3 separate regions of the Homo sapiens genome follow, and regions 1 and 2 are each linked to region 3. The links come from fine-mapping of genetic effects on gene expression. A gene starts in region 3. Each other region holds a variant in brackets. All regions are shown on one strand. Distances are between the middles of the regions.

Region 1 (4,241 bases), 49 kb after region 3:
GGATAAGAATGTGAGGAGGATGGGAAAAGGGAGAAAGAAAAATATGATATATTATTTCTCTCTTTGGAATCTGCAATTGAACAAAGCATCTCAACTTAAAAACATCAGCTCTGTAAATGTTTTGTAGATTAAATATTTTGTTATTCTTTGTTCCAAATATCAAAACGTAATCTTGTCTCATTCCCCTGTGTCTGGGAGGTAGGAAGGCACAGGTTTCCCTCCTTATTGCAAACATTCCGCAGCACAAGTCCAAGAACCTAGCTACAGCCAAGGAACAGGTGAAGGCCAGCTCATTACATTTCAACTAGACCCTTTTTAAGAATCACCAGTGAACCTTAAATTCAGCTGATTTTTTAAAATTGAAAATAAAAAAGAGGCCAGGTGCGGTGGTTCGTGCCTGTAATCCCAGCACTTTGGGAGGCCAAGGCAGGCGGATCTCCTAAGGTCAGGAGTTCGAGACCAGCCTGGCCAACATGGTGAAACCCCCGTCTCTATTAAAAATACAAAAATTAGCTTGGCATGGTGGCGGGCACCTGTAATCCCAGCTACTTGGGAGGCTGAGGCGGGAGAATCACTTGAACTCGGGAGGCAGAGGTTGCAGTGAGCCGAGATCACGCCATTGCACTCCAGCCTGGACAACAGAGTGAGACTCTGTCTCAAAAAAAAAAAAAAAAAAAAATTAAAAAAAGAAAAAAGAATGGCCACATTCTCTTAGACCTTTGACTTCCACCAAGGCAGTGGTCAGGAGGCCCCTTCAGGGCCTGGATGGGTTTGGCGCCTCGTGTCGTCTAGGGAGACATCTGAAATGTCAAGGAAAGAGCAACAGACAGACATGCGGTTAGAGGCTCGAGTTTGAATACCAGCTCTGTCACATTCCAACTTGGGCAGGTCACATAACTATTGAGTTCCAGTTTGCTCATCTATAAAAGGGATGATAATAAATATATCACAGAATTATTGAGAGGATAAAGGAGATAATGCATGTAGAATTGCTGAACAACTGGAGTTATTATTTGCAGCTCTTGTTAACTAGGGCGTGAAAATGCATACCAGTCTTGTCTGTAAACCCTTTATTGTTTAAATAAAAACATTTTTTAAATGTGCTGGCTGGTCCTCGATTTGAAATAATGGAGATCTGGGAACCAGAGGAAAAAAATTCCCTAGTTATCACAGGCAAAGAAGAGTTTGAGGTTGGCCAGGGTATGGTGCTGTGCTCTGGAGAGAGATGAGGGAGAACAGGCTCTGGCTAGAGAAATGGCCTCCAGTTTCTACAAGAATGAGGAAGACAGTCCTTGCCCTTGCTGTCCTGGTGTATAGGGTAGTGCTGCGCAGCTGAAAGTCTCGGCTTGAATTGCAGAGCACAGAGAAATGCCATCTGTCATTTCTGTCTTTGGCATTTTTTAGATATGCTAGCAACAGCACCTGCTCATTTACTTGTATATAACTCAAAAATGGGAGGTGAATGTCCTAGACACAGCCTAGATGGGACACAGGTGTGAGGAAAACATTGCATTAACTTTGCATTTTTCAAGGCTTCATCAGCTGCTTAGATTAAGGAAGGATAAAAACAAGAGAAAGAGCAAGAGAAATTAAGCAACTCGTATGCTTTCTTCCCCTAAGAATCCTGATTAAAATCCAACCACAGAAGACTTGCCAGCAAGTTCCAATATATGGCGTGCTTTCCATAGCAGATCTGGCTAGTGGTTACTTGGAGGAAGGTAACGTGACAACCTATACAATATTAACTCATCCTAAATGTTGCTTAGTGAAAGAAATATAAATCTCTGAGATAGGTGACACGGGGATTTCATTTGGAACTGAAGCCCATAGTTATAAAAATTCAGTAAGGAGGAGAAAAAGAAAACAAAATAAAACTAGATTGAATCATTAATC[A/G]AAGACTGTGTGTATGGCTTAGGTTTATGTTTTTGAACCAACAGTAAATAGTAAGAAAGCATTTTCTTTTTTATGCATGTAACTAATATATTAATAGTAAAAGGACTGTTGGCTAAAGTTCAAAGTGAACGCTTTTCCTAAAACATAAAAAGCAAGTAAAATAAAACCCACAAAAACTACAGTAAACAAATGAATGCATTTTACAAAATAAAACATTTCCCTTGGAAAGTTGAGTGAAAACAAATATGTAAATAGCTTCTGTTTTTATAGTTAAAGCTTTTTAATCTCTGGTGCATAACAATTGAAAGAATGAGAACTTAGACAAAAGTATTTGGTGGATTTGAGTTAATGGGCCAAGCAAGCTTTTTTTCCTTGGCTTCTCTGTCAAATGAGTCATAGATCGAGTCTTTGGTAATAGTTTTGGCCATGGAAGGGATTTCTGAAATGCCAACGTAGTTTTTTTTGGCCATCCTTGAACTTGTTGTGATAGTATAGGCATTGCTTCGGTAACATTTCATAGAGGACATGCAAAAAGTCTCTTTCATCCCTCTCCGAAAATTGGCATTATAAATTGAATACAGAGTAGGTTTAGAGGCTGAAGAACTAAAGGATATCCATGTGATAGCTGTGAAAACAAGGGAACTTTTCTTATAGTCTTGTTCATGGGGGTGCCATAGCTGAGCTACATGAAAAGGCAGCCAGGAGAGCAAAAACAACAGATTTAAAATGAGGAACATCTTGATAGTTTTCACTTTTGTCCGAGGGACAATGTTCATTGTCCTCCTCACCGTTCGGCCATCTGTGCCTATTCTCCAAATATATTTTATGACCTTTTGGTAAAATAAAATTATGAGGACAGATGGAATCACAAAGCCCACCAAGAAGTGGATGACAGTGTAGGCAGTGCCTTCCCAAGAGGAGGGGAGGAAATAGTTACAATGACTGTCCCAGTTGGAGCCATAGAAAAAGAGCACAGGGGTCACAAAGCCTGCATCAAAGACCCACGATGCCGCAATCATTTTCTTGGCTTTTTCTCTGGACACCTTGAAGCTCAGAGGATAGACGATGGTGTAGAACCGGTCTATGCAGATGGAGAGGAGAACGTAGATCTGGACACCTGGAGTGAGATATTGAAAATATCGCACAACCTTGCACGTTGCACTACCCAGCGTCCACCTTCCAGTGGTGAACTGGAGCAGGACGAAAGGCGTGCTGGCAACGCTGATGAGAAGGTCAGCACATGCCATGGAGACCACAAAGTAGTTGGTGGTAGACTGAGTCCTCCTACTCCTATGGATGACCAAACAAACCAGGGAATTGCCGAAGATAGAAAACAACCACAGAATCCCAAAGAAGATGCTGGCTGTGGCCACTTCCCCGGGTTTCAGCACATAGTGAAGGTCTGTTTGGTTGCTCATCCAACTGTGCTCCTCACTTAATTCCATCAGGTATTGGCTTGGCAGAGGTGTGGCTGTTTCAGTGCAGCTGCGGTTTTGGAGGGGCACCAGAAGTGTAGGAATAATCAAATGTGGCTTGCTGTTATCCATTCTGTGAGCAAAAACCATATTCACTTTTTTTCTCTTAATTCTGGTTGGGGAAAAGAAGAATGAGGCCTCCTGTTAAAAAGGTGTCATACAGATTGGTTATGATTACTCAGGCTAACGATCTTATTTGACATTTACATTGATTGTCATTTGTCTTTGTGTAGGACTTGAGCGTTGGCAGGAAAACATAACTACTATCCAGAAAAAATTCTGGCCCCAACTTTGTTTTCATTTTAGGAGCTGTTTCAGCAGATCTCAGCTCAGGCTCTCTCTGGCCTCACCTTCTCTTGACCCTTAGTCATACCGAGCTCCCCTCCTACACATATCCTTGTTCCCTTCACTCATCAGGGATCACAGAATATTAGGGATCTCAAATCTGGCTCATGGTAACGGTGTTACCACCAACTGAAGATCTGCTGGAATTCTGGGCAAGTATGTGAGAAGTTCCTAATTGTCCTAAGGTTGCAAAAGAGGAAAGCTTGGGCAGATGAAAACACACAGATTTTGACTATGGAAGTAGCTAACAGCAGTCTGTGAATGTAGACAGGCTAGCTACTGGGAAGGGTGCTGTCCTTACTTAGTGTAGATTTTCCATCACAGAAGGATTATGGTAACACATGGAGCAGTCAACACTGCTACATGAGCCAGAAATAGCTCCTAATTTAATGACATCTGAAAATAGCTTGCTTTTTCTAAAAGACGATACAGTTCATGCACTAATAGCTTGCCACCTACCAGTGACATATATTTTGATGCTATTCTGTTGTTATTGTTTCATAAAATACTGACTGAAGAACATACAAG
Region 2 (4,241 bases), 27 kb before region 3:
ATGGTCTACTCCCAGCCCCTCACCTTCGGAGCCCCTGTGCTTAAGTACTTCGCTGACAACATGGCCCAGAGGCGAAAGGACCTTGTCCAATGCAGCAGGAACTTCTTATTCCCAAACCCTCTGCCCACCCTCATAGGCCAGTCTTTTGATAAGAGGCTGTAGACCTGAAAAATTATTCTAGAATGTTGGATCTAATAGATTTAATAGTCACTATATATTTACTGCATGTTCTGAAACAAGGCTGGATTGAGGACTGTTTTCATTTGAGCTGAAGACACAAAATGAATATACAGGAAACAGCAGCTAAGTGTACCTGACAGATTAATGGCATCAAGTGCTAAGCCAAGGGTAATTGGTTCAGAAAAATGAGACACTGATAAGTACAGAAGTAATGAGGGAAAGTGTCACCAAGCCAACGTTTAGGAGAGACCTTAAAAAATGGAAAGAATCTGGATTGGCAGGAAAGAGAAATTATGACATTCTAGAAATGATATAGTACCTACTATTTCATGTGATGAATTATAAATTATAATAGGAAACCATTATCAAAGGCAAGAAAAGTGAAAGATATATTCATGGAAAACCAAAGCAGTCAGCCTGTCTGGAGGAAGGGTGGCATAAGAATGTACATAGCAAAAATTAATGGGAAGTTAAGATCATCTGAATAAGATGAATTCATCAACATACTTAGGCTGGGCACGGTGGCTCATGCCTATAATCCCAGCACTTTGGGAGGCTGAAGTGGGTGGATCGCTTGAGCCCAAAAATTCAAGACTAGCCTGAGAAACACAGTGAGACCCTTTCTCTACAAAAATACAAAACAATTTAGCGGGGTGTGAAGGTGTGCGCCTATAGTCCCAGGGAGTATAGTACTTGGGAGGCTGAGGTGGAAGGACAGCTTGATCCTGGGAGGTCGAGGCTGCAAGTGAGCTATGATCACTGCACACCAGTGTCGGTGACAGAGTGAGACACTGTCTCACACAAACAAACTTACCAAACATATATCAAGTGCTGATTACACTAGGTCTCTTGCTGCATAATTATAATAGTTTACACCTATTAAAGCTTACAATGTGCCTTGCACTGTGTTAAAGTGCTTTACATATATTATCTCATTTAATTGTCACGACAGACCTATGAGGTATATGTTACCTCATAGGTAATGTATCCATTTTACAGATGAAACTGATGAAACCCAGAGAGGCTAAGGAACTTGCTTCAGGTCACATAGTTACTGAGTGGGAAAGCCTAGTATTGAACCAAGTAAGTCAGCCCAAACACGGGTTCCGAGCACAATGCTAAACTGTCTCCACAGATATTACTACAATCTCATAAACTTCCCTATGACATAGGTATTATCACCCCAGTTTTGCAAATGGGGATTCAAGGTTTCGAGAGTCAGTGAATTGCCCAAGGTCATTCTGCTGAGTACGGGGCTAGGATTTGAAAGCAGATCCACTAACTCCAAGTCCATTAAACTTCCCATTACAATATAGCCACCTGGCAGAAATATTGTCTAGTATGAGATCAGATTAGAGGAAATTTTGACAGCAAAGAAGAGCAAGAAGTCTATATGAATAGGGAAGAACTTCAGGGTTTTGAATAGACATGATTTGATTAATGAAGGTAGTCTAGGTCTGGCCTCAGTCTTTCACAGGTAATTGAATCAGGGAAAGGGTAGACATGAACAGTAGATGATATTAGAGGAAGTAAGGACCTAGAAATGGGCATAGGAGAGAGGGAATGACAGAAACAAGATCAATATTTGAAGGAAAACCTGATTGTTCTAGGGGCTGAACAGCTGAGAGTGATGAAAGAGGAGATCAAATCAAAGAGGAATTTGCTTCTCTATATCTAAATAACTTCATGGACTATTGACAGGGACTGACAGTTTATATGAGCAGCTGATTTGTGGCAAAAAAAAAAAAAAAAAAAGAAGAAGGTTGTTTTTGGACATGTTGCAATCTGCTTGGCAGAACAATGACCTGCACATTCCAGAGGAAATGGCCAGTAGGCAGTCAGGGAAATGGGATTGGAGCTCAGGTAGAGAGCAGAAGCTGTCAATAGTATCTGACAAATAAGCTCTGCAAGGACCACTGAAGGGGCAGACAAGTCACATCCCAAGAAAAATAGGGTTTTTTTTTAATAATCAGAATGCGCCAGGAGTCAGCAGAGAACCAAAATGCACTATAATGAAAGAGATCAGGCCCAAGGGCAAGCCACAGGTCA[A/G]GATAAGTGGTTAGGGACAATGCAGAGATAAAAATTAAAGGGATGCAGCAGCAAATCTGATCTCATCAGTATCAAGGATAAATGACCACAGAATAATTTCCTGTCCTGTTTCTGGTATTTTGGGGTATTCCCCTATTGCAGGAGCCAAATCCACTTAACTGGATGACGCCCTCAGAATGACCCTGCAGAACAACCAGGAATCTTCCTAGCAGGGAGTACACAGTCTACATCAGCACAGGGAGAGAATGAAAGTTATCAAAAAGGGCCTCTCCACTGAATTGTACATGTAAAAATGGCTAAAATGGTAAATGACATTTATGTAGATTTTACCAAAATTTAAAAGGGAGTCTATCTCTTGAAAAGATAAACATCTACGGATTCCCCCAAAATCTCCAAAAGTTCACCTAATTACCATCTCCTGGACTTCCCCTGTTTGTTAAAGATCTTGATTTCCTTGCTTAAGTTGGTGGCTATGGTGCTAAAGGGATGAAGATACTTAAGAAACCATGGAGGCTGCAGCTACCTGGTGCCCTTGTCCCTTCCAGTCTGGGAAGGGAATGGGATAGTTGGTTGTGGTCAGTTTGCTGTGGAAACTCCTCTTCTGGCCTTTCTGCTCCCTCTGTCCTTTTTTCAGAACTTTGAGAACATGACACATTGGCCAATGCTCCACCCTCTGTGACCTCTTCTGCTTGACACAATTAAGAAAATGAGCCATAGAGCAACTCAGCCAACACCTGGAAGGGACTTACCTGAGACAGGAACCTGAGAGTCCTGTAACTTCAGTTCTTGCTCACTGCCCTGTGCATATGGCCTTAGAATCCTAGGATCCTCTTTCTGACTTTACAGAGATCACCTCCAAGCCTATATCGAATTCCTTTCCTGATCAATATATAATGTGTTCTTAGTTCAGGGGGCCTTCACAAACCAGGGCAACCCAAAGGTGCTCAGCTCCTACGCTCTTGGAAGTAGCAAGGTGGGGCTCCTCTTCATCTTGTAAGTAAGGAAACAGTGGCCCAGGATCAGTTCAATGGCTTGCCCACGGGCATATACCTGGCTAATTGCAGAAGGGGAAGGAGATGCAGGCCTTCTGATCCACTCTCCAAATCTCTGTTAGTTAGACAAAGAGATCCCAGCTGAAATATTTGGAATGCTATTTTTACTGAAGCTTTGCTTTCCCCCAGATTTAGTCTCTTTTACTGCCTTTTTCTCAAAACATATTTAAACTGCTTGGAAATGCCAATTAGGGGTCTAAAATAGAATGATAACTGCACCGATCAATTGGGGAAGCTCACTGGTTACCCACAAAACCATCACAGACCGCCTATTATGCTGTGGCTAAAACTCGGATCCATGCCTTCCCGCAGCCTCATATGGCAGAGCACCCCAGTCCCTCCTGTCGTTGCCCCATGTTGGCCTTGATGTCTGCCTCTGAAATCCTTGATTACCAACGTCAACAGGCAATTGGCCAGCTTAGGAGGGGCCTTCCAAGGCTATGGCAAGATAGAAGAATGACAGTACAGCTCATCATAAACGTATTTATCAGGCAAACTTCAGGAAAAACTGGTTTCTCAGGCTTGCCACCTGAAGCAAAATAGTTCTGGGTGAAGCTTGACATGGTGTATATCTGTGGGTCAGGTCAGCACACACACAGAAAAAGAATCTTTTTTGTTTTCTCTTTGGAGATTATCCAAACTATAAAGTTAACCAGAGAAATGAATTATCTGTTTTAGTCAAGCCTATATTTCTTTCCAATGGTCATTTTCTGGAAATGCAGGAATTCAAGTTTAGAACTTCTAAGTGATAGAGTCATATACTCATAAAATAGTAGCACTGTATGGGACCCGGAAATTGTCTAATCTAGCGTCTAATTTTGCAGATAAGAAAGCTGAAGTTTCCCATTATTAAATGAATATTGTACTTCCATGCAGGCAGAGATTGCACTCATTTCTTTACAAGCTGAAATTACACTGTTGGCTCCCATGGCACTGGCAGCCAGCCTAAATAAAACCCAT
Region 3 (4,241 bases):
ACTCCTGACCTCAGGTGATCAGCCCACCTCGGCCTCCCAAAGTGCTGGGATTACAGGCGTGAGCCACCATGCCCGGCTGAATTTTAGATCATTTTCATCACCTCAAAAAGAAACCCAGTACTCATTAACCGTCACTCTCCTTTCCAGGATCCCTCCATCCCTGCCATTCTTCAACCCTAGCCCTTGGCAACCACTAATGGATTTTTTGGTCTATTTAGATGTGCCTGTTCCAGACACTTCATTATAAATGGAATCATACAATATGTGGCCTATTGTGTCTGGCTTTTTTCACTTCACATAAAGTTTTCAAGGTTCAGACATATTGAAGTGTGTATATCCCTTCATTTTTTTTCATTGCTGAATAATATTTCTTTCCTTTTTTTTTGAGACAGAGTCTTGCTCTGTTGCCCAGGCTGGAGTGCCGTGATCACAGCTCACTTCAGCCTCCAACTCCAGGGCTCAAACGATCCTCCCACCTGGGCCTCCCGAGTGGCTAGGACTACAAGCACCACCACCACACCCAAGTAATTTTTAAATTTTTTGTAACACACCCAACTAATTTTTAATTTTTTTTGTAGAGACTGCATCTTACTATATGGGTCTTCTTCCTTCTTCTTTCTTCTTCCTTCTTCTCCTTCTTCTTCCTTCATCGTTCTTCTTCCTTCTTTCATTCTTCTTCTTCTTTTTTTTTTTTTTAAATACAGTGTCTGGCTCTGTCGCCCAGGCTGGAGTGCAGTGGTACAATCTTGGCTTATTGCAGCCTCTGCCTCCCAGGCCCAAGTGATCCTCTCATGTCAGCCTCCCCAGTAACTGGGATTACAGGCATGTGCCACCACACTCGACTAATTTTTGTATTTTTTTGTAGAGACAGGTTTTGCTATGTTGCCCAGGCTGGTCTCGAACTCTTGGGCTAAAGCAATCCTCCCGCCTCGGCCTCCCAACGTGCTGGGATTACAGGCGTGACCCACCACCCCTGGCCAGTATTTCTTAATTTGTATAGTCCACACTGGTTTATCCATTCATCCAGTAAAGGACATTTGCGTTGTTTCCACTTTTTGACTATTATGAATAATGCTGCTAGGAAAGAACATTTATATACAAGTTTTTGTGTAGTCACTCGTTTTAATTTCTCTTGGGTATGGGAGTGGCCAATATTCTGAAGAACTGCCAAATTTCTTCCCAAAGTAGCTGCACTATTTTACATACTTAGTTTTTGTTTTTCGTTTTTTTTTAAATAAAGAACCTTTAGGGTTTCCTCAGCGTCCCAGAGGAGGGCCTGCTTCCGGCACCCCGCCTTCAGGGCTGCCTCCGCAGAGCACCAAACTCCCGTCCCCGCCATTCCAGGCCCTGGCACTTAGGAGCCAAAACCTCAGGTCAGGCGCACTTTGGGCCTCCAGCCCAGCCCCGCCTCCTCAGCGCTAGCTAGTAGGCAAAAGGAAAACAGCTGCCCCTTAATGAGGCTATGTGGACATCGTAGTTTTTTTTCCAGTCAGTAGCGCAGAGACTGTGATAAGAAAAATCACAATTCCCAGAATGCCGCGGTGCTACGGCAGCCGAAGGGGCCATTCCGTGTGCAGCGCTCCCGCCCACCCTCCGGTCTCGGCGGCTCTCCAGAGCGTCTGTAAACACCCAGAGACTGTCATGGAGGGGGAGGAGGAGGCGGCGGCGGCGAAGGGAGGCGTTTGGGGCCGCCTCCAGGGTCCGCTCTGCCATTCCTGAACTGGTCCCTCGTCCCCGTGACTCTGGCATCAGGGAAGCGAACTGTTAGGCGAGAGGAGGAGGCAGCCAGAACCATATCCCCTTCTTCCTCGGGGCGGGGGCCGGGCCAGGCCGGCTGAGCCGGGGGAGGGCTCCGGGAGGGAGTGCCTGGCCAGGCCGGCCTGTCTGCCGCGATGGATGACAGTAAGGTAAGTCTTGTGGTTTGCACGCGCCGCCGCCTTCTTGTCGCTCAATGCTAGTCCCGCGGCTGAACCTCCGCTATGTAGTCCACGCCAACACCCAAGAGACACCTGCCTAAAACATCCCTGCGCCTCTCCAGTCCACTGCCCGATGGTACCCAGCCAGGAAATCAGGGAACACCGGGGCTGCGTTTTTCCAGGAAGGGCCCTCTCTGGAAATTTTTCACTCCCAGGGCGTTTGCTAGCTTTCCAGGTAGTGCAACCCCTAGTCCTTAACTTGCCTGTCGAGATAAGAAACTACTGTACTTTTTCTTCTTGCACTTTTTTGCTGCCTCCTCTCTCCAGTTTGGAGACTTTAGTGCACGCTGAACCAGCCTTATTCCCCTTGACGATTCCCCTTCTCTCAGGCTCCCTTACTCAATGCCCCATTCATATAATCAGTTCACTCCCCCTCTGAGCTATTTCCTGTGGTTGGTTGGAACACCGCTAAGCTCCTGTTGCTATTTGGCCAGTGTGGAGTTTAACCTCCACTAGAAAGCCTTCTCTAAAAAAATACTGATTTTCCTCTTGTTAACTTTAATAGCCCATCACCATCCAATTTCCCTGTCCAAATCACTTACTTTATGATTATAAAATAATAGATAATGTTCATTATTGGTTAATCCAAATAGTTTATCTATGTATAGCCTTTTTGTCTTTATTTATTAATTGAGACGGAGTTTCGCTCTTGTCGCCCAGGCTGGAGTGCAATGGCGCGATCTCGGCTCACCACAACCTCCGCCTCCCGGGTTCAAGCGATTCTCCTGCCTCAGCCTCCCGAGCAGCTGGGATTACAGGCATGCACCACCATGCCCGGCTAATTTTGTATTTTTGGTAGAGATGGGGTTTCTCCATGTTGGTCAGGCTGGTCTCGAACTCCCAATCTTAGGTGTCCGCTCGCCTCGGCCTCCCAAAGTGCTGGGATTACAGGCGTGAGCCACCGCGCCTGGCCGCCTTTCTCTCTTTACATCTACCCACATTAGTGTTGTTTAGTTTTATTTCCTGAAGATAGGGATGGTCAAAGATTTGTTTATTGATGTTTCAGGTTGTTTTGGATTTGGACTTTTTTATTTTAAGGAATCAGACTTCTAAAATTTGCCAGTTTTTAAAGTAAAAACCGTCCTTCTTTGTGCTTCTCAGCGTCTTCTGTTTCACAGTCTTTGGCATACTCTTTACGATAGCTTTGTCCTTTGTTTGGGTGTCTTTTTTTGCTGCTGCTGCAGTTTTTGTTTCACATATCCTCAGAGAGATTCAAAAAATTTCCAACTTCTCTGTGTTCCTTGTTTTATTCTTTCCTTCTTGTTTTCTCTTCCTCTTCATGTAGAAGGCTGTGAGGAAGTGACAGATGGAAGGGAAAGCCCAGTGCAGTACTCTGGAATTGTTACTCACCTAGAGGAACGGATTGCTTGTGAAGTAGTAAACCCCTCTTAATAGGAAGTGGTATTTCCAAGACAGAAGGGGGGCGAGTTTCAGGAAGCTATCAGCTCATAAGAGTGCTTAATATGCTCAGTACACACATTAATTCCCTTGACAAGAATCTTGCCCTTGTTTGTTTACAACAATGCAACAGAATGCGGGATAACATTGTAGACTCTTCAGTTTTACTATAGTAACATTCGTGGGGTATGATATTGGGGAAGTGGTATTTCCAAGACAGAAGGGTAGCGTTCTAAAAGTTTTCCAGAAAAATCAGCAAGTAATTTTTTTTTTTTTTTGCTTTGAATATTTCTTTGGGGAGGGGACATCACACTTCTTTCTTTTTTCTTTTTTTTCTTTTTTTTTTTTTTTTTTTTGAGACGGAGTCTCCGCTGTATCGCCCAGGCTGGAGTACAGTGGCACGATCTCGGCTCACTGCCGAGAATTGCTCTTGGGTTCAAGCAATTCTCCTGCCTCAGCCTCCTGAGTAGCTGGGACTACAGGCGTGTGCCACCACATCCAGCTAAATTTTTATTTTTCGTAGAGACAGGGTTTCACCATGTTGATCAGGCTGGTCTCAAACTCGAGTGACCTCAGGTGATCCGCCCACCTCAGCCTCCCAAAGTGCTAGGAATACAGGTGTGAGCCACTGCGCCCGGCCAGGACATCACACTTCTACTCAATGAAGATAAACGTTTTTACACCTTTTGTCTTTTTTACCCCTATTATGCCACGAATTCATAGGGAATAAGTTCTAGTAGCTCAGGCTGTTTTCCACTGGTGGAGTAGGCTGGTGCTTCAATTGAACCCAGGTACCTTTCTTATTTAGTTTCCTTTTTTTTTTTTTTTTTTGAAATAGGGTCTTGCACTGTTGCCCAGGCTGGGGTG

Evidence for each region.
Region 1: its variant is fine-mapped to the expression of CREBL2 in whole blood (TOPMed, PIP 0.96).
Region 2: its variant is fine-mapped to the expression of CREBL2 in adrenal gland (GTEx, PIP above 0.99).

The regions. Positions count from the first base shown.
Region 1 is chr12:12,658,991-12,663,231 of GRCh38, forward strand. GPR19 (G protein-coupled receptor 19) reads right to left here. Exons shown (of 4, transcript NM_006143.3): 4 at 1,900-3,480. The coding sequence starts at 3,458. The coding sequence ends at 2,211. Among named protein-coding and RNA genes, the nearest start is that of GPR19, 35 kb to the right of the region's middle. The variant A/G (reference allele first, on the strand shown) is at 1,894.
Region 2 is chr12:12,583,323-12,587,563 of GRCh38, forward strand. It overlaps LOC107984486 (a long non-coding RNA gene), which reads right to left and starts at 3,636. Exons shown (of 3, transcript XR_001749010.1): 1 at 2,979-3,636. RefSeq lists enhancers at 121-180, 1,735-2,236. The variant A/G (reference allele first, on the strand shown) is at 2,230.
Region 3 is chr12:12,610,281-12,614,521 of GRCh38, forward strand. CREBL2 (cAMP responsive element binding protein like 2) reads left to right here and starts at 1,596. Exons shown (of 4, transcript NM_001310.4): 1 at 1,596-1,907. The coding sequence starts at 1,893. RefSeq lists enhancers at 965-1,716, 1,310-1,389, 1,440-1,489 and a silencer at 1,650-1,949.